Homo sapiens: one gene and its partners. The gene in region 1 interacts genetically with each later gene. Each region holds a gene or a part of one and is shown in the gene's direction. Other genes may lie near its edges. The genes, in order: ATG7, CARS1, HSD17B12, CAD, RCL1, KAT8 and FIBCD1.

The links.
Region 2: of ATG7 (region 1) and CARS1, changing one suppresses a phenotype caused by changing the other (phenotypic suppression), as found in Homo sapiens cells (one large-scale study listed by BioGRID).
Region 3: of ATG7 (region 1) and HSD17B12, changing one suppresses a phenotype caused by changing the other (phenotypic suppression), as found in Homo sapiens cells (one large-scale study listed by BioGRID).
Region 4: of ATG7 (region 1) and CAD, changing one suppresses a phenotype caused by changing the other (phenotypic suppression), as found in Homo sapiens cells (one large-scale study listed by BioGRID).
Region 5: of ATG7 (region 1) and RCL1, changing one suppresses a phenotype caused by changing the other (phenotypic suppression), as found in Homo sapiens cells (one large-scale study listed by BioGRID).
Region 6: of ATG7 (region 1) and KAT8, changing one enhances a phenotype caused by changing the other (phenotypic enhancement), as found in Homo sapiens cells (one large-scale study listed by BioGRID).
Region 7: of ATG7 (region 1) and FIBCD1, changing one suppresses a phenotype caused by changing the other (phenotypic suppression), as found in Homo sapiens cells (one large-scale study listed by BioGRID).

What each region holds. Positions count from the first base shown.
Region 1 is NC_000003.12:11,313,877-11,318,232, forward strand, and holds part of ATG7 (ubiquitin-like modifier-activating enzyme ATG7), read left to right. Parts: intron 1-1,467; coding exon 1,468-1,617; intron 1,618-4,356. UniProt on the Homo sapiens protein: E1-like activating enzyme involved in the 2 ubiquitin-like systems required for cytoplasm to vacuole transport (Cvt) and autophagy.
Region 2 is NC_000011.10:2,999,796-3,003,149, reverse strand, and holds the end of CARS1 (cysteine--tRNA ligase, cytoplasmic), read left to right. Parts: intron 1-549; coding exon 550-609; intron 610-975; coding exon of another isoform or gene 976-1,008; exon of another isoform or gene 1,009-1,096; coding exon 1,097-1,180; coding exon of another isoform or gene 1,181-1,188; exon of another isoform or gene 1,189-1,257; intron 1,258-1,901; coding exon 1,902-2,036; 3' UTR 2,037-2,221; downstream 2,222-3,354. UniProt on the Homo sapiens protein: Catalyzes the ATP-dependent ligation of cysteine to tRNA(Cys).
Region 3 is NC_000011.10:43,853,910-43,857,454, forward strand, and holds the end of HSD17B12 (very-long-chain 3-oxoacyl-CoA reductase), read left to right. Parts: intron 1-805; coding exon 806-955; intron 956-1,234; coding exon 1,235-1,339; 3' UTR 1,340-2,706; downstream 2,707-3,545. UniProt on the Homo sapiens protein: Catalyzes the second of the four reactions of the long-chain fatty acids elongation cycle. This endoplasmic reticulum-bound enzymatic process, allows the addition of two carbons to the chain of long- and very long-chain fatty acids/VLCFAs per cycle.
Region 4 is NC_000002.12:27,230,340-27,234,695, forward strand, and holds part of CAD (multifunctional protein CAD), read left to right. Parts: intron 1-1,128; coding exon 1,129-1,241; intron 1,242-1,640; coding exon 1,641-1,885; intron 1,886-2,108; coding exon 2,109-2,355; intron 2,356-2,702; coding exon 2,703-2,801; intron 2,802-2,972; coding exon 2,973-3,197; intron 3,198-3,286; coding exon 3,287-3,469; intron 3,470-3,668; coding exon 3,669-3,887; intron 3,888-4,178; coding exon 4,179-4,346; intron 4,347-4,356. UniProt on the Homo sapiens protein: Multifunctional protein that encodes the first 3 enzymatic activities of the de novo pyrimidine pathway: carbamoylphosphate synthetase (CPSase; EC 6.3.5.5), aspartate transcarbamylase (ATCase; EC 2.1.3.2) and dihydroorotase (DHOase; EC 3.5.2.3).
Region 5 is NC_000009.12:4,830,675-4,835,030, forward strand, and holds part of RCL1 (RNA 3'-terminal phosphate cyclase-like protein), read left to right. Parts: intron 1-2,479; coding exon 2,480-2,554; intron 2,555-3,466; coding exon 3,467-3,591; intron 3,592-4,356. UniProt on the Homo sapiens protein: As part of the small subunit (SSU) processome, it plays a role in 40S-ribosomal-subunit biogenesis in the early pre-rRNA processing steps at sites A0, A1 and A2 that are required for proper maturation of the 18S RNA.
Region 6 is NC_000016.10:31,120,182-31,124,537, forward strand, and holds part of KAT8 (histone acetyltransferase KAT8), read left to right. Parts: intron 1-4; coding exon 5-79; intron 80-157; coding exon 158-333; intron 334-4,356.
Region 7 is NC_000009.12:130,907,588-130,911,943, reverse strand, and holds part of FIBCD1 (fibrinogen C domain-containing protein 1), read left to right. Parts: intron 1-55; coding exon 56-152; intron 153-4,356. UniProt on the Homo sapiens protein: Acetyl group-binding receptor which shows a high-affinity and calcium-dependent binding to acetylated structures such as chitin, some N-acetylated carbohydrates, and amino acids, but not to their non-acetylated counterparts.

The sequences.
Region 1 (4,356 bases):
GGCATGAGCCACCCTGCCTGGTCTGTAAAGTCATTTTGAAGATGTAGTGCACAGTAATTTTCCAGGTTTTCAGTGGTATTTGGTGAAATGCTAAGCCAGTAAGGGGGAATTATAGGAATATTTTGAAACACTGAAAGAATTTACCAAAATGTGGTCTTCATTTTCAATGTGGGGAAACATAAGGCAGTATAGTCTGGGAAAGAGTCTTTGAAACAAAACAGAAGGCATTCTCCTACCCTTGTACCAAGTTGCAGAACTTTTCTACCTGGAGCAGTACATGCAGAGTTAGTCGGTGACATTTGGGATAGATAATAAGTTCATTAGAGATGGTTCCCAGAAGAGCAGTTAAAATAATCAGGCTGGTATAACAGAGACCCTAAACTAGAGAATTCTTATTGTTGTTAAGGCAAAGATTATGTGTCAAGATGATTTGAATTCTTGAAACACATCAATCACTAAAGCCCTGAATACTGATGCCATCATTCAGGGAGCTCTCTTGGAGCTGTTCAGGGAGCAGCCATTATTGATTAAATTTTTTTTGTTGTTGTTCGTACAAATCCGAGGTTGTGGTTTTGTGGAACTAATTTCCCAAGAGGAAATATAAGTAAGGAAAAAGGATTTTGGCTGAGTATTGACTGCTGGCAGGTATGGGGTTTCTTTTATTGAGGACAAAAATGTTCTGTAATTATTGCTGTGGTGCTTGCATAACCCTGTGAACATACTAAAAAAACAAACAGCACATTGCATTATGTACTTTAAATGGGTGAATTGGGCCAGGCACGGTGGCTCACAACTATAGTGTAATTCCAGCACTTTGGAACGCAGAGGTGAGCATACCACTTGAGCTCAGGAGTTCAAGACCAGCCTGGGCAATATCGTGAAACCCCATCGCTATAAAAAATACCAAAAAAGTTAGCTGAGCCATGGTGGTGTGTGCCTGTGGTCCCAGCTACTCAGGAGGCTGAGGTAGGAGGATTGATTGAGCCCAGGAGGTCGAGGCTGCAGTGAGCTGTGATTGCCTGGGTGACAGAGCAAGACCCTGTCTCAAAAAGTAGTAAATGGGTGAGTTGTATGGTATGTTAGTCATGTCTCAGTAAAGCTGTTGAAGATTATGGAAAGGTTCGGGGTAAAATTCATCAGGGGTAGATTCATGTTGGGTTATCATAGGAGAGAAAGAATGTTTCGTTACCGCTCTAAAACTCTGATTGACAGCTTAGGGAACTACCATGTTGTAGTCCCTTTGTGCCCCTAAGACACACACCACCATGCCCCTGGAAAGTGTTATATAAAAGCTAAGTGGTATTATTTGGAGGCACTTCTATGTTCACTTGCTGTAATAGAGTAAGAGGAGTGTGATCAGTCATTTCTAGTCTTCTGGTTTTAAGGTACCTTTTTTTTGAGTTAGTTTTTAGCCCAGAACTAGAAATGTAATTTTCTAGAGAATAACAACGTGTTTTCTGTTTTCAGATTGAAGCACTAGAGTGTGCATATGATAATCTTTGTCAAACAGAAGGAGTCACAGCTCTTCCTTACTTCTTAATCAAGTATGATGAGAACATGGTGCTGGTTTCCTTGCTTAAACACTACAGTGATTTCTTCCAAGGTCAAAGGACGAAGGTCAGATAAACTTTGAGTATCATTTTATTATATAGTTTTTTAAAAAATCTGAAGTTCATGTTACAAGAGACCACTGCAAAATTCAAACTTGTTTAGATTTCCTTAGCCTTCAAAGGATGTTTAAGAACATTTCCTTATCTCTATCCTCTCCCACCCCTACAGTTATCGAATCAGCTCCTCTAGGTTTTTCTAGCTCTACTACAGCTCAGAATAATTTTGATACCTTACTCTTTTTTTTTGTTTGTTTGTTTGAGATGGAGTCTCGCACTGTTGCCTGGGCTGGAGCGCAGTGGCGCAATCTTGGCTTACTGCAACCTCTGCCTTCCTGGTTCAAGCGATTCTCCTGGTCAGCCTCCCGAGTAGCTGGGACTATAGGTGCCCGCCACCATGCCTGGCTAATTTTTTGTATTTTTAGTAGAGACAGAGACGAGGTTTCACTATGTTGGCCAGGTTGGTCTTGAATGCGTGACCTGCTTCGGCCTCCCAAACTGCTGGGATTATAGGTGTGAGCCACTGTGCCCAGCCAATACCTTACTCTCTATTAGTGCTAAAGTTATTTCCGTTTTCCCTCCTGATGTATTTTACCCTCTATGTTTTAATTTTTATTCCCAGAACTACCCTGTAGTTCAGGCCCCTCATATCACACTCCTGGACACTTAGAATCTTGTTTCCATGTTGTGCAACACTACTGTAGAAGAATCTCCCTTGAACTACCCACATTTAGTGTATCATTCATTGACCAAGAGCATAATGGTGTCTTCCTTCTGGCTCCAAGCTGCCTTTCCTGCCTTATCTTCCATTATTTTCCTCATAAAGCATTGCTCCAGCTAATCTTATCTATTTTTCTCCAGAATCTCCATCCCCTTCCCGTCAGATACATCTAAAACTTTTTTTGTATCTTTGTTTTTCCTCGTGTTGTATCATCTTCCTAAAACATGTTCTACTTGTGAAAACCCTAAGAAATTCTCTCTGTCTTATTGAAATTCTATCTCCACTGTGAAGCATTATCATGGTGTGGCCATATATGATCTATCCCTATCTGAAGTCACTGCATTTATTCCCTGATCCTCATTTGCAGGTCCAGTACCTTGTACAAGTTTCTTTTTGTGCCATATTAGACTGTAAGCTCCAAGAGGGCAGGGCCCAAGTCTTATGAATTTGTGTCTGCATAGTGTCTAGTACTTGTCTGAGGCCCTCAATAAAATTCTTTTGAGTGAATGAAAGAGTACCGTAAATGTCTTTTAGAAGTGATCAGATATATAGGAAGTTGTCTTAGCCATACAGGAGACTATGAATTAAAAATATCAAAGATTATGAGTGTTATGAAGTTCTGAAATCAAATGGAATCATCTCCATAGCCATGTGAATATATCAGAGCTGAAAAAAGGAAAGCCTTTAACTGACGGTCTGGTTATTCTTTAGCCTGAACTTAGGATGACTTTTTTTTTTAAAAGCACATTTTAAAATCAACTACATTTACATTTTATTTTTCAGAGGAAGCCCACCTCCCCTTTTTTGTTGTATTTTTATTAGAGATGGGGTTTCACCGTGTTAGCCAGGATGGTCTTGATCTCCTGGCCTTGTGATCCGCCCACCTCGGCCTCCCAAAGTGCTGAGATTACAGGCGTGAGCCACCACTCCTGGCCCAGAGGAAGCCCTTTTTAAATTGAGGACTGAAGATTGAATTTTTATTAAAATTCTTTCCCCCAGGTGATTTCACAGAACCACAGCTAAATTAGTATAGCAATAAGACCGTTAATAATTTAAAGTCCAATCTAGTGTGAAGTCCTCTTGTCATAGCAGGCAGGATTAAATGGCCTGTGTTTGGAAGCGACCGTAGGTCAGGTTGTATGTGGTAAATAAGTGGTCCTCCCCAAAGTGCAGCTCTGCCAAAATAATAACAGTTTGAACAGTGCTTTACAATTAATTTAAAAGGGACTTTCACATACTTGATCTTTTTATGATAAGTCTGTGAAACAAGCGTTAGTTACTACCTGTGGTTAGTTAATTAGTATCTGCATTTTCTGTTTGAGACTCAAAGTCACACGACCACATTGTCTGATTCCGAAGCCTATGCCCTTTCTTTCTTTCTTTTTTTTTTTTTTTTTTTTGTTTTTGAGGCAGAGTCTTGCTCTGTCGCCCAGGCTGAAGTACAGTGGCACGATCTCGGCTCACTGCAACCTCCGCCTCCTGGCTTCAAGTGATTCTCCTGCCTCAGCCTCCCAAGCAGCTGGGACTACAGGTGCGCACCATCATGCCCAGCTAATTTTTGTATTTTTAGTAGAGATGGGGTTTCACCATATTGGCCAGGCTAGTCTCAAACTCCTGACCTCGTGATCCTCCCGCCTCGCCCTCCCAAAGTGCTGGGATTACAGGCGTGAGCCACTGTGCCCGGCCACAAGCCTATGGCCTTTCTACCATTCCCTTGACCTTGGGGAAACTGCATAACTTTTCTTTGTATTAGTTTATCTGTTAAATGGTGGTAATGCCACCTCCTTATAAGGTTTTGTGAGGATTAAACATGATAATGTGAATAAAATGCTGAGCACATGGTAGATGCTCAATATGTATCCACTTCCTTTATGTTTCAACAGCAGTATATTTTGAAAGACAACAAATCTCTGGGGTCTCCTCTGAAGTGCTCTGAGGGATTCACCAGAAACCTGTCCCTGAGACTAACTGCCTGTCTGCTTGTCGGATTCAGGCACACTATCCTTCACTTGGTTAGGGTGGTATCTC
Region 2 (3,354 bases), on another chromosome or scaffold:
CTCTCCCTGCAGCATCAGACTGTCCTCGCCCCTGCCCGGGTGCTGCCTGCTGGTTGGAGTGGGCTCTGGTCTCCTCACCTAGCCCCCAAGGCTGCCCTCCGCCCACCATCCCCATCCTGCCCTGGCGCTCTTGCTCCTTCCCAGGTACCCCAAGACCCACTCAGGATAACCCTCACAGTGCTGTCCTGGTCATTGCCTTACAGATCCTCTCTCCTTGGGCCAGGCTCACCATGCTGGTCCATTTCTTCATGTTAGTGGTGCCTGGATCTTTTAGCATTGGTTCTGTTTGTCTGCCTGCTGCATACCTTTGCATCTAGGGCAGGGCCAGGCACCCAGGGGTGCCGCTGAGGATCCCCAAAGGGAATGGAAGAGGGTCGGTGTGCTGCCCGGCACATGGGCTTGTCTCCCCACAGTGGGGAGGGCCTGGTCAGAGTTCAGCCCTCCATGCCAGGCCCTAGGAGAGGGGCTTGTTTGGCTAGACCTCTCACTCCGAGAGACCCAGCAGCCTGAGGCAGCCCTGTCTCATCTGGCTCTGTATTGACCCTCCAGGTTGAAGAGGAGAAGAGGAAGAAGAAAGAGGAGGCGGCCCGGAGGAAACAGGAACAAGAAGTAATGCATTTTGTTTGGGGGTGAGGGCTCTACTGGGCAGGAGTGCACCCTGACCCCATGCCCTGTGGCTCTCTGTGCCTCCGTGGACCTTAGCCAGGCCCCTGCAGACCCTCACAGAAGGAGCTCCGCTTTCTGCCTCCACCACCCAAGGCCTGCCAGGCCCTTCTCACATGGGGTGCAGGGAAGGCCTGGCCAAGGGGAAGGCTGTGCCATGTGGTCACAAGCTCCAAGACAGCGTTTATAGACTTACTACTATTAGGTTTTCTAGTAAGCTTTCCACTATTCCTGTAGAAATAACATCTGGTTTAATTTTAAATTCCTTGTATGTTCCCTCCACCTTGGCTTTCCCCTTCCCATCTTTCATAGCACTCTGAATCTGAGGGCTTGGAAGCAAGTTGAGGGCTGGAGGTATGAGCAGATGTCGTTCACAGTGCGGAGCCCCAGGTGCTGCTCGGGGGCAGTGACTGTGCCGTGTTGCGTGTTCTAGGCAGCAAAGCTGGCCAAGATGAAGATTCCCCCCAGTGAGATGTTCTTGTCAGAAACCGACAAATACTCCAAGTTTGATGAAAATGTAAGCATGTAAGCATCCTTCTCTTCTATTCAGAACTTGATCAGACCACATTAAAGTGGGAGGACAGGAATTTTCAACCTTGGACAAGCAGATTTTCTGTCTGTAGAAAATTTGGAATCAAATCTGACACCCGCTTTAGGTCCAGGGCCTCCTGGCCCAACTACTGAGCTCCTTCCACAGCCCAGGCAGCTAGGCAAGCCCGTGCCAGGGCCCCCTCCACTGGTGTGGTGAGCTCTGGTCCCTAGCCCTGGGAGTTGTGGCCCCGGGCCAAGATCCACCCAGGCCCTCACAAGCTGGCTGAAGTGCCGTGGCGCAGATAGGCCTCCTACCCCCAGTTTCTTCCTTTGTCATAGCGATTCACAGCCACTGCCTCCAAACCTCTAGGCCCCTCCCTGCTGGCATTTGGATGTGTTTGCTATGTACCTTTGGGCCAGCTGTGTCAGAACTCAGCCATGGGTAGGCTCTGAGGGGCACAGTGCCCCTCACCTTAGGCAGGAAGCACCCCCAGACTCTGGTCGCCCCTCTCCCATTCTTAGCTGCTGGAGCCAGCACTGCCAGATGAGTGTGCTGGCTCCAGAGCAGTGTGGTGACTGAATGTCCAAGCAAGAGGACATGGCTGCATCAGGGAGATAGACACTTTGAGACGGGAGGGCAAAGAAAGGGGAGTTGGGGTTACCCAGGTGCAGAGGAGACCAATAGCCGCTGTGCTCTGGGTTTTCAGGGTCTGCCCACACATGACATGGAGGGCAAAGAGCTCAGCAAAGGGCAAGCCAAGAAGCTGAAGAAGCTCTTCGAGGCTCAGGAGAAGCTCTACAAGGAATATCTGCAGATGGCCCAGAATGGAAGCTTCCAGTGAGGGGGCACAGGACTGACTTTTTAAACCATTGTGGACTAGTGGCTGCTGTCTGCCTCAGTGACAATGTCCCAGCGCTCCTATCATGTTTACAGTCACCCTTGGGTCCTAAATTAAGAGTTGTGTTCATGTAGGTTCGTGTCGTCGTTGGCTCTGAGACATTGATAATAAATTTTTCTCAACAGTGAGACCCTCTCTGTCTTGTTCTGCATGTTCAGCACTTGGCAGGAGGCCTGGTGGCCAGCCAGGGCCGCTTGGTCAGCAGGTCACAACTTAGGTGCTTGGGTCAGTTGAGCTGCTTCAGCTGGCCGAGGAATTTCTCCCCCATGCTGATGGCTATCGGCTAATCTCTGGTGTGTGGGCACATTGGGAGGTATTTGAGTAGGAAAAAGACAGGCTCAGACTGGCAGAGCCTGCTGAGCCCTAGACAAAGGCCGCTCAGTCTGCCCTCGGGTTCTGATGAATAAACACACTGCAGGTTTTCCTAGAGCCGTTCCATACTGGGCAGCAGCACAGCGAGTGGCTCAGCAGGCAGGCCCCTGGCGAGCTGCCCAGAACTGCCGCTGGAGACAGCAAGTCCAGGATCTGCATGGCTAATGAGTGAGTTGTGGGGGTGGTCTCAACACAGCAGGGGCCTTCTTGTCCCCAGTGCCCAGTGTTGTCCTTGCCACCCTGCCTCCACACCTGGTTCACCTGGACTAAGAATCACCACCCAGACGCGAAGGTGCTTACCCATCCTTGGCTGAGGAGGGCGTAAGCAGAAACCACAGCCTGCTTCATGCCTGCGGAAGCTGGTGCCAGGCCATATCCATCGGGACAAAAGACAGTCATTGGTGCTGTGGACATCCAGGGGGGGACACTCCATCCAGTGCATGTGGATGGTGGCAGCAGCCTCAGCATGGGGAGTGTGGCAGTGTTGGGTTGTGGGTGCGCCAATTCTTTGTCCTTGCCCTCCGCATGCGCATGCTGTTTACTGCAGTAGTGTGTGACACAGCAAAAGGCTGGAACCAGCCTGTCTGTGCATCAGCAGGGTGCTTGGCACAGCTTGAGAGCACCCACCCAATTATGCAGGGAGCACTAAGGTTATAAATCAATGAGGACAGTCTCTGGGTATTGATAGGCCTGACTTTGAACCTTGTCAGTATTTTATATATAAAAAAATTTAAACCAGCAAGAAAGAAAAGTCCCCCAAACAAAGTAAAACAAACATGTTCCAGTTATCTGTTGCCACTTAACAAATCACCCCAAAACTTCATGGCTGAAAACAACAATGATCATGTTAATAACTCATGGCTCTGGATTGACTGGGCTCAGTTGATTG
Region 3 (3,545 bases), on another chromosome or scaffold:
GGACCTCTTGTATCATGACTCAGGACTTGTTACAATAGGGTTTCCTTATACTCTGTGTTGAATCACATCCAAAATGCAGCAAGCTTAAGCAATAAAGAACCTAACATTATTGAAGTTCCTCTAAAGGTCATGTCCAGATTTGTCACCCTACACCCATCCAGTCAGGTGTCTTTTAGTTACCCAAACAGTTTCCATATTGTTAGACTGTGTTTCTTCTAAAAAAGAAAAAAAGGGAGGTGGTTCTATCTTATCAATAAAATTGTTTATAAAACTCAGAAGTAGAATGGTGAGAAACTAGGGAAGAAAAGTAGTAACGCAAGTCTGAGAAATAAGATGTCTATTTTAGAAGGATCAAAGCTGATAGAACAAGCTTAATTAGCCATAAATTATGGAGAAAGTTGGCATTATCCCATTAGAAGAATAAAGTATCAAAGATCTCCTACTTGGTGGTTCTGTCTCAATGTTGAGTTTACTAAGTGTGAAAAGTATCCTATCCTGAATCTGTGCTCTCTGGATTATTTAATGCTTTCCTTTTTAAAGGTTCAAAAAGGTAGATTTCTGCTTATTTTTAATACTTTCTCTGGTCTCAAACTCTGTTTTATTGAGAGATTGATTTGTTACAATTTGTTTTATGGTATCATGTGTTCTATCAAGTTGGCTTTAGATAGCCACTTCTCTTTTCTTCTCTCTCTGTAAAGATACAGATGTTTCTACCACTAAGAGCAGTCAAGCACCACTGTACATTCTGAGTTTGTGGCCTTACTAATCAATGGCATGTTTTCTGGGGTGGGTGTTCCCTTTCTAGAGTGTCCTGCCATACTTCGTAGCTACAAAACTGGCTAAAATCCGGAAGCCAACTTTGGATAAGCCCTCTCCGGAGACGTTTGTGAAGTCTGCAATTAAAACAGTCGGCCTGCAATCCCGAACCAATGGATACCTGATCCATGCTCTTATGGTAGGTAGATTTTTTGAATCACAAATCAATACTTTCTGGCTTGGGGTTTCTTTCCCATTGAGTTACAGGATAGTATGTAATAGATTAGCACATATACATTGTCCAGCCATAGTAACAAGATATCTATATCTTGTTATAATTATAATGGTCGTATACCCAAGAACTTTAAAATCTACCTATAAATAAAAACAACACTATAATAAAACATTAAATCATATGCTTCAATTTAGCCCAAATTGTAGGCTATAATTACATATCTCTCTCATTCTGTTTCCCTAGGGCTCGATAATCTCAAACCTGCCTTCTTGGATTTATTTGAAAATAGTCATGAATATGAACAAGTCTACACGGGCTCACTATCTGAAGAAAACCAAGAAGAACTAAGCATTGATAACTGCATTGTAACTTGGCCAGATGCTCCAGCATATGCACGTTCACTGCAAAGCACCCTACTGGTTTTGAAAATCTGACCTTGTCATTTCAATAGTTATTAACATGACTAAATATTATCTTAATTAAGAGGAAAATAGAAGTTGCTTTTAGGGGTTTCTGACATATATTCTGGATACTATCCGAGGTAATTTTGAAGTTTAATATAAATGCTCATATCAAATGAATATAGAACTAATATTGTCGGGAACACCTAATAGAAAGGAATACTATTATAGCAAATCACAGAATGATAGACTCAAGCATAAAACTTGGCAGTTTTATCTGCTTCAAAATGCCATTGATCATTATTCCTGTATTTTCTCTGAAACTGATTATAAAAACCAATGTCCAGCTACTCTTTTGTTTTTGACACTTGAAGAAATGGAGATCGATTTGATTTGTTTATAAGCAGACACACTGCAATTTACAAAGATCTCTTTACGGTTTTATAAAATTATCTTCCAGTTTGTACATTTATATGGAATTGTTCTTTATCAAGGGTAGCTAATGACATGAAAATAATTGTGAAATATGGAATTATTTCTGACACATGAAGCCCACTAAACTATGCTTTCTTATAATGCATATTTCTTCTCAGTTTAAATGTATGTAAATATCGAAGCTATATGGTATGATTTATAAAGATAAATGGGCCAAAGTGTACATTGAGACTGGCAGCCATCTATGGTACCACTGAAACCCTGACCCAGAAAAGTGGCTTGCTTGGACACCCAGCTGCCTTTGTTTCTGCATTAAACCAATATTGATCACACATATGACACAGGCTAGTCCTATAAAAGTAATGACTTCATAGAAATGGCATTATAATTTTTAAGTTGATACTCTACAGGTAGCTATTGATATAATTAGTTTTAATAAAACATGCTGCAACCATGGTATACAACAAAAATACATTTCTTTGGTGATTGAAATTAAGGCCGTATTTACAATGACTTAATATAAGACTGACTTTTATCCTGCTTCATAACTTGTATGGAGAACTCACCAAGAAAGAATTCAATACTGTGAAATATGCAGCAAGAAGATTGGTCTTTACCTAGGCTGTGTTTCCTAAGCTCTGAGTTTTCAGCACCAGTAGATTTGTATTAAAAGAAAAAAAAATGGGGCCTTAGCTTCTGGCTTTTAATTTTGCCAGCTAAGGACATAAAACAAAAATAAACAAACAAAAACAAATAGCCATCTGCTATCAGCATCATTATGTAAAAGAAAATATATTTTAGCCCCTAAAATTAGGAAGAATGTAATCTCAGAATAAAGGTTGTCATTTAAGTTGAATAAATATATAGCTTTATGAAAAACACATTGTTTGCCCTTTTTTCCTCTCATTTCATTGTAGAAATGGTGACACCACAATGACCTGGACAGTATTTTATCTGCTTTCACACATTGGTTGGTTAGTTGGTTGGTTGGTTGGTTGGTGAGTTGGTTTTAGTGTAGTGGTGGTAGATAGAGGAGGGATTCTCTTGCAAGTATACAAAATACTCTCTTTTTCTTTTATCCCAGTTAGAAAATAGTTGTAGGCTAAGCACAGTGGCTTACACCTGTAAACTCAATGCTTTGGGAGGCTGAGACAGGAGGATTGCTTGAGCCCGGGAGTTCAAGCCCAGCCCGGGCAACGTAGCAAGCTCTTGTCTCTACAAAAAAATTAAAAAATAAAAAATTAGCCAGGTGTGGTGGCACGCACCTGTAGTCCCAGCTACTTGGAAGGCTGAGGCAGGAGGATTGCCTGAGCCCAGGGATTAGAAGCTACCGTGAGCTATGATTGAACTACTACTGCACTCCAGTCTGAGTGACATAGTAAGACCCTGTCTCAAAAAAAGAAAGCAGTTGTAATTCTGGCTAGAAAATCCCTTAAGAATTTCAAAACTTCTGAGCTGTGGCTTTGATTGCTTCAACTTGGCAAGCACCCACTTGTATTTGACACTCCAGGGTGAAGGTGATGACGTAAAAATGTATTTTTCTAGGCACATGAAAAGAAAAATTATGTTAAAAGAGAAAACAGTATACTCCAAACCTTCAAAATAGTCAAGTAAAAATTTCAGACTTAACTTTATGTTGACTTGATTTTATGTTCTAATGCATACTAGATAAGATTTGAACACAGACGGGCCAGGCGCAGTGGCTCATGCCTGTAATC
Region 4 (4,356 bases), on another chromosome or scaffold:
TGTAAAACATACCTATGAAGGGCCCGGCACGGTGGCTCACGCCTGTAACCCCAGCACTTTGGGAGGCCGAGGCGGGTGGATCACGGGGTCAGGAGTTTGAGACCAGCTTGGCCAACATGGTGAAATCCCGTCTCTAATTAGCCAGACATGGTGACACGCACCTGTAATCACAGCTACTCAGGAGGCTGAGGCAGGAGAATCTCTTGAACCCAGGAAGCAGAGGTTGCAGTGAGTCGAGACCGTGCCATTGCATTCCAGCCTGGGCAACAAGAGCGAAAGTCCATCTAAAAAAAAAAAACCTATGAACCTATGAAGAAAAGTCCAGAAAGAGAAACTCTAAAATGATTGTTGTAAATGTGATTTGCTCTGCATGGATGAGTAGTAAGGATCATCTTCCTATTATCTACACTTTTTTAAAAAGTTTTAAAGAATTCCAGTTGGTGTTATGATTATGTGAATAAATCAAACCCAATAACTGGACAGCCATCAGTGGTTTGGGCCACTGTGATAAACTTCCAGTATCCAGTGTATGGGGATATATTCCAGTATCCCCATGCCCGTTTTAGGCATATTGATTCCATATTCATCAATAAGCACAAAGCCTGAGCTTATCCATGAAAATAGCAGGGAAAAGAGCTATAAGTTAAGATTTCTTTTTGTTTGTTTGTTTGTTTTGTTTTGTTTGAGACGGAGTCTCGCTTTGTTCCCCGGGCTGGAGTGCAATGGTGTGATCGCTGCTCACTGCAAGCTCCACCTCCCGGGTTCACGCCATTTTCCTGCCTCAGCCTCTGGAGTAGCTGGGGCTACAGGCGCCCGCCACCACTCCCGGCTAATTTTTTTGTATTTTTAGTAGAGACGGGGTTTCACCATGTTAGCCAGGATGGTCTCGATCTCCTGACCTCGTGATCCTTCCGCCTCAGCCTCCCAAAGTGCTGGGATTACAGGCGTGAGCCACTGCGCCCGGCCATTAAGATTTCTTAGTTGTGAAACACCATGAATCCCACCATCATGTGACTTGCCTTGAGAATCTCCCAGAGTCTTGACTATAAACCATAAGCATTATGGGCAGTGCCTTCTTCCCACCCCTTCCACCTCCACACCTTCATTCCTTCCATTCTGTTCTTCCAGGTGAAGTCATGGGCATTGGGCGTTCATTTGAGGAGGCCTTCCAGAAGGCCCTGCGCATGGTGGATGAGAACTGTGTGGGCTTTGATCACACAGTGAAACCAGTCAGCGATATGGTAAGTAGCTCCCCTCCCCTGGCAATACCCCTAAAATAGACCCTGCTTCTCATCGCCCCCAGACCATGAGCTTGTTACCAGTAACACTAGCAGCAGTCATCATTGGACATTTGCTTTGTTTCCACTTTGCTGAGAATTTTGAGATGTCTCATTAGCACGCAAGGGTGTATTACTAGACTTGTTTTTACAGATGAGGAAACTGAGACATAGGTTATAGAAATTACTCAAAGCCACATAGCCAATGAGAGGTAGACCCAGGATTGGTATCCAGGTTTTTGCAGTTACACAGCCTGTGCTCTGGTGTACAGTTTCCCCTTCCTGAGACAAGAGCAGCTACTTACGCTCAGGCTTTTAGATGGGCTGGCAGTAGCTTCCGTCTGTCTACCCCCTTTCTATCAGGAGTTGGAGACTCCAACAGATAAGCGGATTTTTGTGGTGGCAGCTGCTTTGTGGGCTGGTTATTCAGTGGACCGCCTGTATGAGCTCACACGCATCGACCGCTGGTTCCTGCACCGAATGAAGCGTATCATCGCACATGCCCAGCTGCTAGAACAACACCGTGGACAGCCTTTGCCGCCAGACCTGCTGCAACAGGCCAAGTGTCTTGGCTTCTCAGACAAACAGATTGCCCTTGCAGTTCTGAGGTCAGAGGTGGCAATGAGAGCTTCCGGCTGGGAAATGTGGGGCAGAACCTTTGTATCAGTGAGGGACCCTTGGGAGGGAGGAAGGAGAGTGTGGGAGAGCTTTAGAGGCTTCTGACCTTGGTTCCAAGGATATTTCCTCTCATCTGTGCCCTGGGGTCTCAACCCTCTATCAGTCTGTACCCTACTCTCTGGGCCTGTGTTTCAGACCCTTTTTCTATTTTAGCACAGAGCTGGCTGTTCGCAAGCTGCGTCAGGAACTGGGGATCTGTCCAGCAGTGAAACAGATTGACACAGTTGCAGCTGAGTGGCCAGCCCAGACAAATTACCTATACCTAACGTATTGGGGCACCACCCATGACCTCACCTTTCGAACACCTCATGTCCTAGTCCTTGGCTCTGGCGTCTACCGTATTGGCTCTAGCGTTGAATTTGACTGGTGTGCTGTAGGCTGCATCCAGCAGCTCCGAAAGGTCAGAGAGTTCATTTTCTTTCCACTTTCCTTGCTATTCTGTTCATCTCTAGCAATTGCTTGGCACTAATCCTGGCATTTCCTATTAATTGCCGTCCCTTACTTTGGTCATAGAGCTTTGGGGTGGGGGTCCTTTTAGGCCATCTCTCATGCCCCACACGGTATATGAATCTCTTCCCCAACACTTTGTACCTCCTTCCCTCCCAAGGCAGGGGTCCTGTACAGCTCTTTCAGAGGAAGCTGTGCTGGCAGTCTCTGAAGTAGGGGCTTTGGCTTAGTTTCTCCACGATTTTCTCCACGATTTTCCTCCCACCTGACTGCTAAGTACCCTTCCCCTCCCTCTTGCAGATGGGATATAAGACCATCATGGTGAACTATAACCCAGAGACAGTCAGCACCGACTATGACATGTGTGATCGACTCTACTTTGATGAGATCTCTTTTGAGGTGAGGGAGATGGAGGCTTCCTGGTAGCTTGAGTGGCCAGGGTCGAGTAGAACAGCTGGCTGACCTAAGATTCTTTGAAACTTGGTGGCGGCTGAGGGAAGCAGTGAGCAGGAAGGCTCAGATTCCTGCCCTCTTTTGCTGCCACCACTTGTTTCTCCCCCTGCAACGTAGGTGGTGATGGACATCTATGAGCTCGAGAACCCTGAAGGTGTGATCCTATCCATGGGTGGACAGCTGCCCAACAACATGGCCATGGCGTTGCATCGGCAGCAGTGCCGGGTGCTGGGCACCTCCCCTGAAGCCATTGACTCGGCTGAGAACCGTTTCAAGTTTTCCCGGCTCCTTGACACCATTGGTATCAGCCAGCCTCAGTGGAGGGAGCTCAGTGACCTCGAGGTGGGCTGGGACCTGGTGGGTTACCCGGAGGCTGGATGATGCTTGGGGGAAAGTGTGAACAACTCAGCTAAGCTCCCTGCCTCCTGTAGTCTGCTCGCCAATTCTGCCAGACCGTGGGGTACCCCTGTGTGGTGCGCCCCTCCTATGTGCTGAGCGGTGCTGCTATGAATGTGGCCTACACGGATGGAGACCTGGAGCGCTTCCTGAGCAGCGCAGCAGCCGTCTCCAAAGAGCATCCCGTGGTCATCTCCAAGTTCATCCAGGAGGCTAAGGTGGGAGGCTGCAGACAGTGAAGTCTCTGAGGGCATGCTGCCAGCCCTGGAGGAGACTTCCTTCTCTGGTCCAGCAGAATCATAGGCACCAGGGCTGGGAACAGTGGGCTATGTGGGGCTCGTTAAAGGAAGAGACAATCCTAGAGTAAGTGAGAGAAGAAAGTGGCCCTATGTCCCACTGTCTGTGTCCCCCCGCTAGGAGATTGACGTGGATGCCGTGGCCTCTGATGGTGTGGTGGCAGCCATCGCCATCTCTGAGCATGTGGAGAATGCAGGTGTGCATTCAGGTGATGCGACGCTGGTGACCCCCCCACAAGATATCACTGCCAAAACCCTGGAGCGGATCAAAGCCATTGTGCATGCTGTGGGCCAGGAGCTACAGGTCACAGGACCCTTCAATCTGCAGCTCATTGCCAAGGTAATAAGGCTAAAGGAAAGAACTAAAGGGCCACAGCTCTTGCATGTTCTGTGCTGGCCACAGTGCCATGAAGCCCTGCACTGTCTCCTGCCTTCATCCAAGTAGGCAGGGAAGCTGGAGGGAAAGGGCTGTAGCTAGAGCTCATGGTGTTGGGGCTTATGACAGTCAGTGACCCTGAACCCTGCTCAGTCTGATCCCCCAGAGCTGAGGACGGAGAGGAAGAGTCTAGGCCTATAGATAGTGTCAGCAAGGCCAACCTGCAGAAGGCCTGACCAGTCTTCTCTGCCCCAGGATGACCAGCTGAAAGTTATTGAATGCAACGTACGTGTCTCTCGCTCCTTCCCCTTCGTTTCCAAGACACTGGGTGTGGACCTAGTAGCCTTGGCCACGCGGGTCATCATGGGGGAAGAAGTGGAACCTGTGGGGCTAATGACTGGTTCTGGAGTCGTGGGAGTAAAGGTAAGGAATA
Region 5 (4,356 bases), on another chromosome or scaffold:
ATTATTCTAGGTGTACATATGTATGTATGTGTATATCCATATCTGTTTAATTCTTCTACCAACCCAGTGAGGTGGGTGTTTCAGACAAGGTAACTGGAGAGCAGGTTTCTTCCTCTCTTTTTTCTTTTTTTAGCATAGATTGATTACATTTTTACCTTTTGATTGATTGACTGCGCTGTAATGGTAATACCTTTGCCCTGAGCTGCCACTTAGGGTTTGATCTTTGCCTTTTCTCTCTGACCGCAGAGTGGACCGATCACTTTCCCTTAAGCAGAACTTACAGGCCACCATCACTCTGCTAAAACTAGAATGTGCAAAGCTGCAGGAGACTGGAGAGTGTTCGGCCCAGCCTCTCATTTTACGAAGGAGGAAACTGAGGCCCAGGAGACAGGGAATTGTCTAGGGTCTAACAGCCAGTGAGAGGCAGAGTAGGTCCCAAGCCCTCATCTGCTTTTCCTGCCCTTGTCCCACCGCACCAAGTTGCCTGTCTTCCATGTCATATGGAGAGTGATAAAGGGACAGGACTACACCTGGAATTACCCTTGGGCTTCTTGCTGAACTAAGTAAATTTGGCTTCACTCTTTGTGACTCAAGGTATAGGAAGGATGAGCCAGAAGGAATGCTGTGTTTTTTCACCTTTTTTTCCCTCGAGAGAGCCGGTGGCTGCCCAGAGTAACTGCAGCATTGCATCCCCTACTTTTTCAGAATCTGACTTGGCCTTCTCCCCAGCTGCTCTTAAGCCTCGACTGTATTCTTCTTTATCTGGCAACGCCAAATGCATATATTAAGTTTTTGAGTGTGCTTTATTTTTTTATTTTTAGAGAGAGGGTCTCACTCTGTCTCCCAGGCTGGAGTGCAGTGGCATGATCGTGGCTCACCAAAGCCTTGAAGTCCTGGGCTCAAGTGATCCTCCCACCTCAGCCTCTCAAGTAGCTAGGACCACAGGCGTGCAGCATGCCCAGCTTATTTTTTTTTAGTAGAGATGAGGTCTCACTATGTTGCTCGGGCTGTAGCTTTAATATTTAAAATTAGCTAATCTTCAGTGGTTTTCCTAGTTTCCCCTGCCCCACCTGATCCATTCTAAGCATGTTCTTAGGCCTCACAGGTCATTCCTAAGTCTGGTATTTTTCTGATATCACAATATTTAGTTGGGGCTTCTTAGCCTGTTAGAGTTAGTTGTAACTTGGAGATGGCTGGGCTTGAGCCCCTTGCCTTAGAGATAAGGAAATTCAGATAGTTGTGATTTTCTTGTCTGAGGCAACATAGCTAATTAGAAGCAGAGCTGGGACCAGGACTAGGGCTTTTCCTATGCCTTCTGTGTGGTGCCTGCCCTCCCTGCCAGCTGACAGATCCAAGAAGGGAACAAGTAATGGAGTAATTTTCTTTCCCATGTAGCAGTTGAGGCAACATTTGCCAACTCGTTAGATAACAGTACCTGATTTGAATGCCATCTTTCTACTCTTATCAGGAATCCACAAATGGATCAGAAAGACCCCAGACTTCCTGGGAGCTCTGAATGCAGGAGGAGATAACAGTTACACGTGGCAAAGTCTTGCCATTAACTATGGATGTTGTAACTAATTGTAGTTTTGAGTTTGTGCTGCTTCCTGTAGTTTGAGGCTGTCATCACCCCGACTCCCCAACTCCCATGTAAAATCATCACCTTCCCTTTAGCTGCCTGTGTGGTGCTCATCATTGGCATTCTTAGGTGAGCTGTTGAATAGTTAATTTGGTTTGCTTTGACTCGGAATGCTACCGGCTCTAAACATTAAATAACCCTACTGGACAAATGTTAATGAAAAAGATGATTTTCTTCTGTACGTTTATACCTATAAGAATGAGTAGGGTTCTCCAGGCTGGGTGTGGTGGCTCACACCTGTTATCCCAGCACTTTGGGAGGCTGAGGTGGCAGATTACAAGTTCAAGAGATTGAGACCATCCTGGCCAACATGGTGAAACCCCGTCTCTACTAAAAATACAAAAATTAGCTGGGCGTGGTGGCACATGCCTGTAGTCCCAGCTACTCAGGAGGCTGAGGCAGGAGAATCGCTTGAACCTGGGAGGCAGAGGTTGCAGTGAGCCTAGATCGCGCCACTGCACTCCAGCCTGGTGACAGAGCGAGATTCCACTCAAAAAAAAAAAAAAAAAAAAAAAAAGTAGGGTTCTCCATTTGTTTTCTACAACAGTCCAGTCTCTCCATGCTTTTTGCATGATGCCTCTGATGCACACGATGACTTTAAGGTAGGTGTTGGTCTCCATGTCATGAATGAGGAAAGTGCGGCTCAGAGAAGCCCAGTGGCCTGTGAAATCACAGTGTTCCTCAGGCAGAGCCAGCCCACTCGCTCAGTTATATGCCAGCATCCTTTCTGTTTACCACACTGCATCATCTACCTGGTTGCTAAGCCTTACTTGTTTTTTTTGACTCTTGTATTCTGCTGAAGGCTTAATTAAACTTTTCTTTTCTGAAATAATTTCATAGGTTGATGTTCTTAAGGCAACAGCACTCCCTTTGTTGAAACAATTTGGGATTGATGGTGAATCATTTGAACTGAAGGTAAGAATGTTTGAACTGTTGACCATATGTTCCTGTGGAAAACATTTTCCCACTGACTCATTGGAAGAGCTGTGTGACTCAGTGTATGTGTGTCACATTTGAAGTCACCAGTTATCAGAAGACTCACAGGGCTCATGAAATAAACACTACAGACTTTGAACTGAAAGGGACCCTTTAGTAATAACAATAGTAGCTGACAGTGATGTTGCACTTCTTTTGCGGTGGGGGCCGTTCTAAGCAGTTTACAAATACTAACTCCTTTTCTCCTCACAACAGCTCCGCCCATGTGCCTCAGCTAGCAAGCAGTGGAGAATAGATTTGGGCCATATTGGCTCTCTGATCTAAATGATCTGGATATAATTTATGTTCAGGGGCTCCCAACCTGGATGTCCCTGAGAATTTTCAGTATTTCCAAAATCTAGTAGAAGTAGTTTAAGCATCTGTATTTTGTTGAATTATATCAATCCAATGTGGTAAACCGTTTAGCATCTCTGCCTTTTACATTCATGTTTTAAACAGGGGAAATGACTTCATTTTTATTTAATAATGTTTTGGTAGATCCGTTATTTGCATGGGAGGAGAAAAAGGGGTTTCTGATTATTAAGAAATGGGCTCAGATGATGGACTAGGTCAGCTCTATATTTTAAGGATAAAGAAGTGACCTGTTCAGGGTTAAAGAGATGAGTGGCAGAGCCACTTGGGTAATCGACTTGGACTTTGACACATGCTGCACAGGTACTCTCTAGGAGCCAACATAAGGTGCTGTTGGTCTTGAAGGGAATGACAGATTGAATATGGAAGAGCTATGCCTTGTAAGGAAGCATCTGCTGGTGTAAACCTTCCTGGGCAGGGTGTCAGGGTAATCCATTGCTTTGCTGCATCCTCGCCTCATCTTTCTCACTCTCTGTGTAGATTGTGCGACGGGGAATGCCTCCCGGAGGAGGAGGCGAAGTGGTTTTCTCATGTCCTGTGAGGAAGGTCTTGAAGCCCATTCAACTCACAGATCCAGGAAAAATCAAACGTATTAGAGGAATGGCGTATCCTTTCCATTTATTTGGATTTCTTTTTTTTTTGTTGTTGTTGCCTCACTAAGATAAGAATGACTAACAGCTTTACTTCTTCCCGAGGTTATTTACATTTTAGACTACAACTTTGAAAAGTCTTAACAGTGAAATTGTAATTGCTGGCTGAGTTAGGATGTTCTGTTATCTGCCTCACCATGACTAGATTGATTGAGTCATTCTTTTTTTTTTTTTTTTTTTAATTTTCCGGTTAACATTTAGGCAAATGGCTCTGATGTATGTGATCCTCTCTCAAGGGCTTTGGTTTGGGGGCCATGAATATACTGCAGTTCCTCCCTCAGAAGACGTCATCATTCGGTGAAGGAACCAAATATGAAAACACACAGTTCTGATATAACATGCAAAATGATATGTGCAGTGGGGTGGGGGCCTGGAGTAGACAGTGGTCAATTTTGTCTGGAGGACCTAGGGAGGCTGGAGTAATCATAATGAATGATATCTACTATTAAGTATTTACTCTGCATCTACTTCAGTAGTCACTTTACATGCTTTTAAGCCTCACATTGACCCTTGAGTTCACTTACATCCTTTTTTGCAGATGGGGAAACTGAAGCTTCAAAAGCTTAAGGAATTTCTTAATAATGTCACACTGCTAATAATGACAGAGCTAGGATTTGAACCTGGTCTGTGTGACTCTAAAGTACAGGCATTTAATTTTTACTTTTGCCTATAGAAAGGAGCCTTGAAGAACAGAGGATTGCAAAGTAGAGCAAGAAAGGA
Region 6 (4,356 bases), on another chromosome or scaffold:
ACAGATTCTGCTGAAGTGATCCAGTCTCGAGTGAACGACCAGGAGGGCCGAGAGGAATTCTATGTACACTACGTGGGCTGTGAGTGGCTTGGCACATCTGGGCGTGGGTGCAGGGAGTTGGCTGCCCTGGCAGCACTCTTATGGCCCATACTTACAGTTAACCGGCGGCTGGACGAGTGGGTAGACAAGAACCGGCTGGCGCTGACCAAGACAGTGAAGGATGCTGTACAGAAGAACTCAGAGAAGTACCTGAGCGAGCTCGCAGAGCAGCCTGAGCGCAAGATCACTCGCAACCAAAAGCGCAAGCATGATGAGATCAACCATGTGCAGAAGGTCCGGATCCCTTCCCATCCACGGGCCCAGGAGGCCCAGCTTCTCTGCCAGTTCCCTTGGGTCTCTCGGGCCCCAGTGCCAAAACCATAGCAAATCCCATTTCTTAAGCTCCTGTAGTGTGTCAGGGACTTTACCTACTTCCTCTTACTTACTTTTCATAGGTAAGAAAACAGACAGAGGGTAAGGGCTTCGCTGCAGTCTCACAGCAAGGAAATGGCACAGCTGGGACTAGAACTCAGGCCTCCGGCACTGGTAGCCTCTTTTGTCTCCTAGTAGCTGTGTCTTAGTAGAAAAAATGACTTGAAGTTCAGTGGGAAAGACGAGAATGTTATTCGGCAGTTGCTATAGCCAAGCACCCTGCCAAGTGCTGTATATGTATAAGCTCCTCAAATCCTTCCCAACAATTCAACACACAGGAATAGTTACTTTTTTGGTAGGTGAGGAAGCAGGCTGAGAGAGATTAAGTAACATGCCCAAGGTCACACAGCCAGTAAAACGGTGGGCTGGAATTAGAATAATAATGCCAAACACTTGTTAGCCGGTGAGCAGAAGTATTCAGCTAAATGGTTTTTGTGTGTGTGTGTGTGTGTGTGTGTGTGTGTTTTGTTTTTTGTTTTTTTTTTTGAGACGGAGTCTTGCTCTGTCGCCCAGGTTGGAGTACAGTGGAATGATCTCGGCTCACTGTAAACTCCGCCACCTGGGTTCAAGCAATTTTCCTGTCTCAGCCTCCCAAGTAGCTAGGACTACAGGTACCTGCCACCACGCCCGGATAATTTTTGTATTTTTAGTAGAGACGAGGTTTCGCCATATTGGTCAGGCTGGTCTCGAACTCCTGACCTCAGGTGATCTGCCCACCTCGGCCTCCCAAAGTGCTGGGATTACAGGCGTGAGCTACTGCGCCCGGCCTAAGCTAAGTGTTTTAATACATGACCTCACTGACATTTCACAGTAGGCCTGTGAAGTAAGCATGCAGAAGAGCTACAGATAAGTTTAGGGACCCAGACAGGAATTTGATCAACCAGCTAAATTGTGCTACCTCAGAGCCAGAGGCCTTAGCAATGATTTTGGTTTTTTTCTTAAGAGACGGGAGTCTTGGTGTGTTGCTCAGGCTGGACTTGAACTCCTGGGCTCAAATGTTCTTCCTGCCTTAGCCTTCTAAGTAGCTGGGACTACAGGAGTGCATCCCTGTACCTGCCTTGGTTTTTTCTTGTATTGATACTTAATAATTGTACATATTATTGTTATTTTTTTTTTTTGAGACAGCGTCTTACTCTATCGTCTAGGCTGAGTGCAGTGGCACAATCATGGCTCACTTCAGCCTCAACCTCCTGGGCTCAAGCAATCCTCCTGCCTCAGCCTCCTGAGTAGCTGGGACCATAGGCACGTGCCACCATGCCCAGCTAATTTTTTATTTTTTTGTAGAGACGGGATCTGCTATGTTGCCCACACTAGTCTCAAACTCCTGGTCTCAAGCGATCCTCCTGCCTTAGCCTCCCAAAGTGCTGGGATTACAGGTGTGAGCCACTGCGCCCGACCAAGTCTCAGTTTCTAAATTTATAAAAATCAGGAGTGCACACCAGAGCAAGATTTGTCAAAGTCTCCAGACACCCAGACATTTGTTACTTTCAGCTATTGCAGCTTCATCCTTCTGAGTACATGAGTTAGTGGGCAAGCCCAACATTTAAATTTCTTTAAATGGAAGAAAGAAAGTGGATAAGATAGAAAAATCAGGGTGTTGCACTTTATTAAGTGTAGGTATTGTTTTGAGAAGCTTTTATTTCACACCCAATAAAAGTGTGCAGGATTCCTCTTGTTCCAGCCTTACCTTCCCGATGATCCTAGCACATACTTGTGTGTATATACAGACATGTTACAGTGCCAAGTGTACTTCCTACTGTGGTGTGATTTAAAAAATTGAAATACCCTAAACTGGAAGAACTCCTCAAGGTCTAAACTGCCGAATCGAACTTCCTATTGTAATGGAAATGTTCTATAGCTGTACTATCTAGTACCGTAGCCACTAGCCACATGTAGCTGTTGAGCACTTGAAATGTGTCTAGTGTGACGAAGAATTAAGAATTTTAGCTGGGCGCGGTGGCTTACGCCTGTAATCCCAGCACTTTGGGAGGCCAAGGTGGGTGGATCACCAGGTCAGAAGATCGAGACCATCCCGGCTAACATGGTGAAACCCCATCTCTACTGAAAAATACAAAATAATTAGCCGGGCGTGGTGGCGTGCACCTGTAGTCCCAGCTACTCGGGAGGCTGAGGTAGGAGAATGGCGTGAACCCGGGAGGTGGAGCTTGTAGTGAGCCGAGATCCTGGGCTCACTCCAGCCTGGGTGACAGAGTGAGACTCCGTCTCAAAAAAAAAAAAATTTTTAAATTATGGGTGCAGTGGCTCACGCCTGTAATCCCAACACTTTGGGAGGCGGAGGTGGGTGGATCACTTAAGGTCAGGGGATTGAGACCAGCCTGGCCAACATGGCCAAAACCCCATCTCTACTAAAAATACAAAAATTAGCCGGGCGTGGTGGTGCACACCTGTAATCCCGGCTACTTAGGAGGCTGAGGCAGGAGAATCGCTTGAGCCCAGGAGATGGAGGTTGCAGTCAGCCAAGATCATGCCACTGCACTCCATCCAGCCTGGGTGTCCGATCAAGACTGTCTCAAAAAAAAATTAATTATCATTTTTTAAAAAAATTTTATTTTTATTTTTTCGAGACAGAGTCTCACTCTGTTAACCAGGCTGGAGTGCAGTGGTGCGATCTCAGCTCACTGCAACCTCCGCCTCCCAGATTCAAGTGAGTTTCCTGCCGCAGCCTCCCAAGTAGCTGGGACTACAGGCACGCACCATCATGCCTGGCTAATTTTTGTATTTTTAGTAGAGATAGGGTTTCACTATGTTTGGCCTCAAACTCCTGACCTCAACTGATCCGCCTGCCTCGGCCTCCCAAAGTGCTGGGATTACAGGTGTGAGCCACCGTGCCCAGCCAAAATTTTCATTTTTTGAGACAGAGTCTCACTCTGTCACCTAGGCGGGAGTACAGTGGCGAGCTCTTGGGTTACTGCAACCTCCGCCTTCCTGGCTTAAGCAATTTTTGTGCCTCAGCCTCCCAAGTATCTGAGATTACAGGCGTGTGCCACCACACCCAGCTATTTTTTATTTTTTATTTTTAGTAGAGATGGGGTTTCGCCATGTTGGCCAGACTGGTCTGGAACTCCTGGCCTCAAGTGGTCCTCCCACCTCGGCCTCTCAAAGTGCTGGGATTACAGGCGTGAGCCACCACGTTTAGCTGAGTATAATTTTAAATAGCCCTATGTGACAAGTGGCTACTTTATTGGACAGTGTAGATCTAAGATTAATTCCTCAACTGTTTTGCACTCAACAAAGACATACCTCTGAGTTGGCAACCAGCAGGGTGGATAACGGGCCAGTGGTGATAAAATCAAAGAATAGGTAATGAAACAATCATCCAGTTAACAATCAGCAAGGTTCTTCAGAGCCTAATTAATGTTTAATTCTAAATAAATTGCAACAATTAAGAAAAGTAGTGTTTTTGTAGTTCTTTATTGCATTTGCAGAAGAGTACTGTATTTTGTGAGAATTGGGAAATGTGTTTTAAAGAGATGTGTGAGGAGGAAAATCTTTCTTCCTCATCTTTACAGTGGTTAGGTTCAGAATTGGACAGACCAGGGGCCCATGCCCAACTCTGCTGAGTACCAGTTCTGTGACCTTGGGCAAGTGACCTCACCTCTTTGTGCCTCAGTTTTCTCTCATACAACAGGGACAATGAGCACTCTTATTTCAAAGGCTCATTGTGAGGAACAAAATGAAATAATGTCGGCTGGGTGCAGTGGCTCATGCCTGTAATCCCAGCACTCTGGGAAGCTGAGATGATTGGATCATTTGAGGTCAGGAGTTCGAGATCAGCCTGGCCAATATGGTGAAAGCCCGTCTCTACTAAAAATACAAAAAGAGGCCAGGCGCAGGCAGACCACGAGGTCAGGAGTTGGAGGCCAG
Region 7 (4,356 bases), on another chromosome or scaffold:
CTGCGAGTCCTGGGATGGTCGGTGCCAACGCCCCATCCCCATCTTCCCTTTGCAGGTGTTTCAGCGCCGGGAGGACGGCTCCGTGAACTTCTTCCGGGGCTGGGATGCGTACCGAGACGGCTTTGGCAGGCTCACCGGGGAGCACTGGCTAGGTGAGCACCCCACCCACCATCCGGCCCAGGTGGGCCTCCTCCCCCTGCCTTCCGGACACAGTTGGGTCCCAGCTGCTCCCTGAATGGGTTTGGGCTGGGTTTCCCTGGCCTCGGCACACCTGAGCCAGCTCACAGGTGTCATGCATGAAGGTGACAGGCATTCAGAAGGAATGAGGCCAGACATTGCCAACGGAAGTGTCAGCGTGGGTGGGCTCCCAGTGCTCATAAAGGCTGAGGGTCCCACATGCCCTTGGAGGCCACTTCCTGCCGGGGTCACCCTGGGACCTGCTGGCTGTCCTGAATCAAGCCAGCTTGGGCAGGTGGTCAGCAGCATCCCAGGCAGCAGGAGGACAGAGGAGGACCCGGCCCCACCCTGCCCAAGGGTGCCAGGGACACCAGGCATGGAACTCCCAAGAGTGGCCAGTGGTGCTGAGTGTGTCCAGAATTGGTGGGTTCTTGGTCTCACTGATTTCAAGAATGAAGCTGCAGACCCTCGTGGTGAGTGTTATAGCTCTTAAGGTAGCGCGCCTGGAGTTTTTTTCTTCTGATGTTCGGATATGTTCGGAGTTTCTTCCTTCTGGTGGGTTCGTGGTCTAGCTGGCTCAGGAGTGAAACTGCAGACCTTCACGGTGAGTGTTGCAGCTCATAAAAGCAGCGTGGACCCAAAGAGTGAAAGAACAAAGCTTCCACAGCGCAGGAGGGAACCTGAGCGGGTTGCCGAGGCTGGCTGGGGCAGCCTGCTTTTATTCTCTTATGTGGCCCCACCCACATCCTGCTGCTTGGTAGAGCCCAGTGGTCTGTTTTGACAGGGGGCTGATTGGTGCGTTTACAATCCCTGAGCTAGACACAAAGGTTCTCCACCTCCCCATCAGATTAGTTAGATACAGAGTATGGACACAAAGGTTCTCTAAGGCCCCACCAGAGCAGCTAGATACAGTGTGTTGATTGGTGCACTCACAAACCCTGAGCTAGACACAGGGTGCTGATTGGTGTGTTTACAATCCCTGAGCTAGACATAAAGGTTCTCCAAGGCCCCACCAGAGCAGCTAGATACAGAGTGTTGATTGGTGCACTCACAAACCCTGAGCTAGACACAGGGTGCTGATTGGTGTGTTTACAAACCTTGAGCTAGATACAGAGTGCCGATTGGTGTATTTACAATCCCTGAGCTAGACATAAAGACTCTCCACCTCCCCACCAGACTCAGGAGCCCAGCTAGCTTCACCTAGTGGATCCCGCACCGGGACTGCAGGTGGAGCTGCCTGCCAGTCCCGCGCCGTGTGCCTGCACTCCTCAGCCCTTGGGTGCTCGATGGGACCGGGCGCTGTGGAGCAGGGGGTGGCGCTCGTCAGGGAGGCTCGGGCCGCACAGGAGCCCACGGAGGGGGTGGGAGGCTCAGGCATGGCGGGCTGCAGGTCCCGAGCCCTGGCCCGCGGGAAGGCAGCTAAGGCCCGGTGAGAAATCGAGTGCAGCGCCGGTGGGCTGGCACTGCTGGGGGACCCAGTACACCCTCCACAGCCGCTGGCCCAGGTGCTAAGTTCCTCATTGCCCCGGGGCCAGCGGGGCTGGTCGGCTGCTCTGAGTGTGGGGCCCGCCAAGCCCATGCCCACCTGGAACTCCAGCTGGCCCGCAAGCGCCGCACGCAGCCCCGGTTCCCGCTCGCGCCTCTCCCTCCACCCCTCCCTGCAAGCTGAGGGAGTGGGCTCCGGCCTTGGCCAGCCCAGAAAGGGGCTCCCACAGCGCAGCGGTGGGCTGAAGGGCTCCTCAAGTGCCGCCAAAGTGGGAGCCCACGCAGAGGAGGCGCCGAGAGCGAGGGAGGGCTGTGAGGACTGCCAGCACGCTGTCACCTCTCACCAGCCAGGGCTCCTGTTTGGGCCTGGAGGCAACCGCACGCCTTCCTGCCACTGGGACACAGTCCCTGCCTGGCACAAAGTAGGAGCTCAGAAGGTTCTGTCAATATCATTACCTATGTTTAAATTCACTCAGTATTTTAGAATTTTTGAAAGTCCTTAACATTTCTTTTTTTTTTTTAACATTTCACTATCTAAACAAAATATTCTAAACAAAACTTCATTTATCTAAACAAAACATTTATCTTAACAAAACATCCTAAAAGAATCACAACTTTGAGGTCCTATCTACCTATATATATTTGGGAAGTGGCTATGGCTTGAAATGAGGTGGATTTTTCTGGTTGTTCTTGAGATATAATTTACATACAACAAAATTCCCTGTGTGGAAGTGTATGACCCTGTGGTTTTTAGTATATTCAGAATATTACAACCATTGCCACTGGGTCCAGAACCTTTTCCTCACTCCAGAAGGAAACCCTGTACCCCCGGGAGCAGTCACTCCTTGCAGGTTTTGAATATACATGAAACGCACAGGTGCTGGGGAATGTGTGCCCCGAGTGTCATCTGGGCGGCCTCGAATGCCCCACAGTGTCCTCCTGCACTTAAGCCCCCCGGGTGTGTGCGGACATCCAGGGAGTTCCACAAGCTGTGGGGGTTGGGGGCGAGGGGCGGCGGAGGGGGCGCCTTGGGTGGGAGGGAGGGAGAGGGTAAGAAGGGTGAGGACATCCCGGGAGTTCCCCAGTGCGGGGCAGAGCTGGTGGTGGAGGGAGAGGGTGAGAAGGGTGTGGACATCTGAGGAACTCCCCTGCGAGCGAGCGGGGTCAGAGCTGGTAGGGAGGCTTAGGCGGGAAGGAGAGGGTGGGCCTGCGTGCCTGGCGGGAAGCACCACCTGAGAGGCTGAGAGCGCAGGTCTGGGCACCAGCCGGGGTCAGGAGGGCTCCAGGCCTGTAAGGATGTTCAGTGACACCCCTGGAAGATGGGGGGTCGGGGGCCCCAAAGGCAGGGTTGGGGTGGTGAGGCGGGGCCGCCCCTCTGTGTGCATGGAGGCCCCTGGGCAAGATCTGCCACCCATGCCCCCTCCTCACCGGGGCCCATGAGAGCAGGGCCCTCTCTGACCTGCCGTGCCCTGGTGCCCAGGGGGTGCCGACAACAGGGAAGGTCACACCCCGTGTGGACTTCATGCCCACACCCCGTGCTGACCCCCAACCCACTGAGCACCCAGCTACACGCTTCCCATGCATCGTCCCCAAAGCCTCACACCCACCTAGTTGGGGGCCCTGCTGTCGTCCCCTCCTTTTAGAGATGAGGAAGTTGAGGCTTAGGAAAGGGAGGTCCCTTGTCACAAGCCTGCGTGTGTTGGGGTTGGGGGAGCCCCAGCAGGGTCTACACACTGGCGCCCAACCCAGCTCGCCTCATCCCCGAACCTGGTGGGTGGAAGGAGGGGAGATGGGGAGACCCTGCCTCAGGCTCCCCAAGCTGGGGGTAAAGATAAGGACAAGGCGGCAGGGCCAAGGCATGCCCTCGCCACCACCCACCCCCTGGAGCAGCGGTGATGCCCGTGCTCATGGTATCTTAATTGAAATCTATCAGCAGCTGCAGATGATGCGGGAGGAAGCATTTAAGCAGGTCCTCATTCCAGCATCCTGCAGACGAGCCCTGACAGGAATGTCAACAGCGCCAGTCCCTCCTCTGCCGCACCACCCTCCCCATCCCCTCTCAATGAGTGCTTTGTCTTTTCCTATCGAGTCATGGAAGCTCTCTATATATTAAGGTTACCGATCATTTGTCCAACACATGATAGGTATTAACTTCTGGCCATTTGTCTTTCAGCTTTTTCTTTTTCTTTTGTGGGGTCATGTTATTATTTATTTCCTAGAAATTTAAGATGTTTATGCACTCAGTTCTGCCACCCTTTTCTTTGTATCTTTTCTGGGTTTTAGCCCCTGCTTTCCTTTCCTTCCCTTCCTAGTTTTATTTTTTTTTTAAGTCTCCTCTATTTTTTCTTCTGTTTTTCTTTTCTTTCTTTTTTTTTTTTTTTTTGAGACAGAGTCTCACTCTGTAGTTCAGGCTGGAGTACAGTGGCATGATATCAGCTCACTGCAACCTCCACCTCCCGGGTTCAAGCGATTCTCCTGCCTCAGCCTCCCAAGTAGCTGGGATTACAGGCGCCCGCCACCACGCCCGGCTAATTTTTGTATTTTCAGTACAGACAGGGGTTTCACCATATTGGCTAGGCTGGTCTCGAACTCCTGACCTCGTGATCTGCCCGTCTCGGCCTCCCAAAGTGCTGGAATTACAGGCGTAAGCCACCGCGCCCAGGCTTTTCTTCTGTTTTTCTAGTGTTGTTTTAG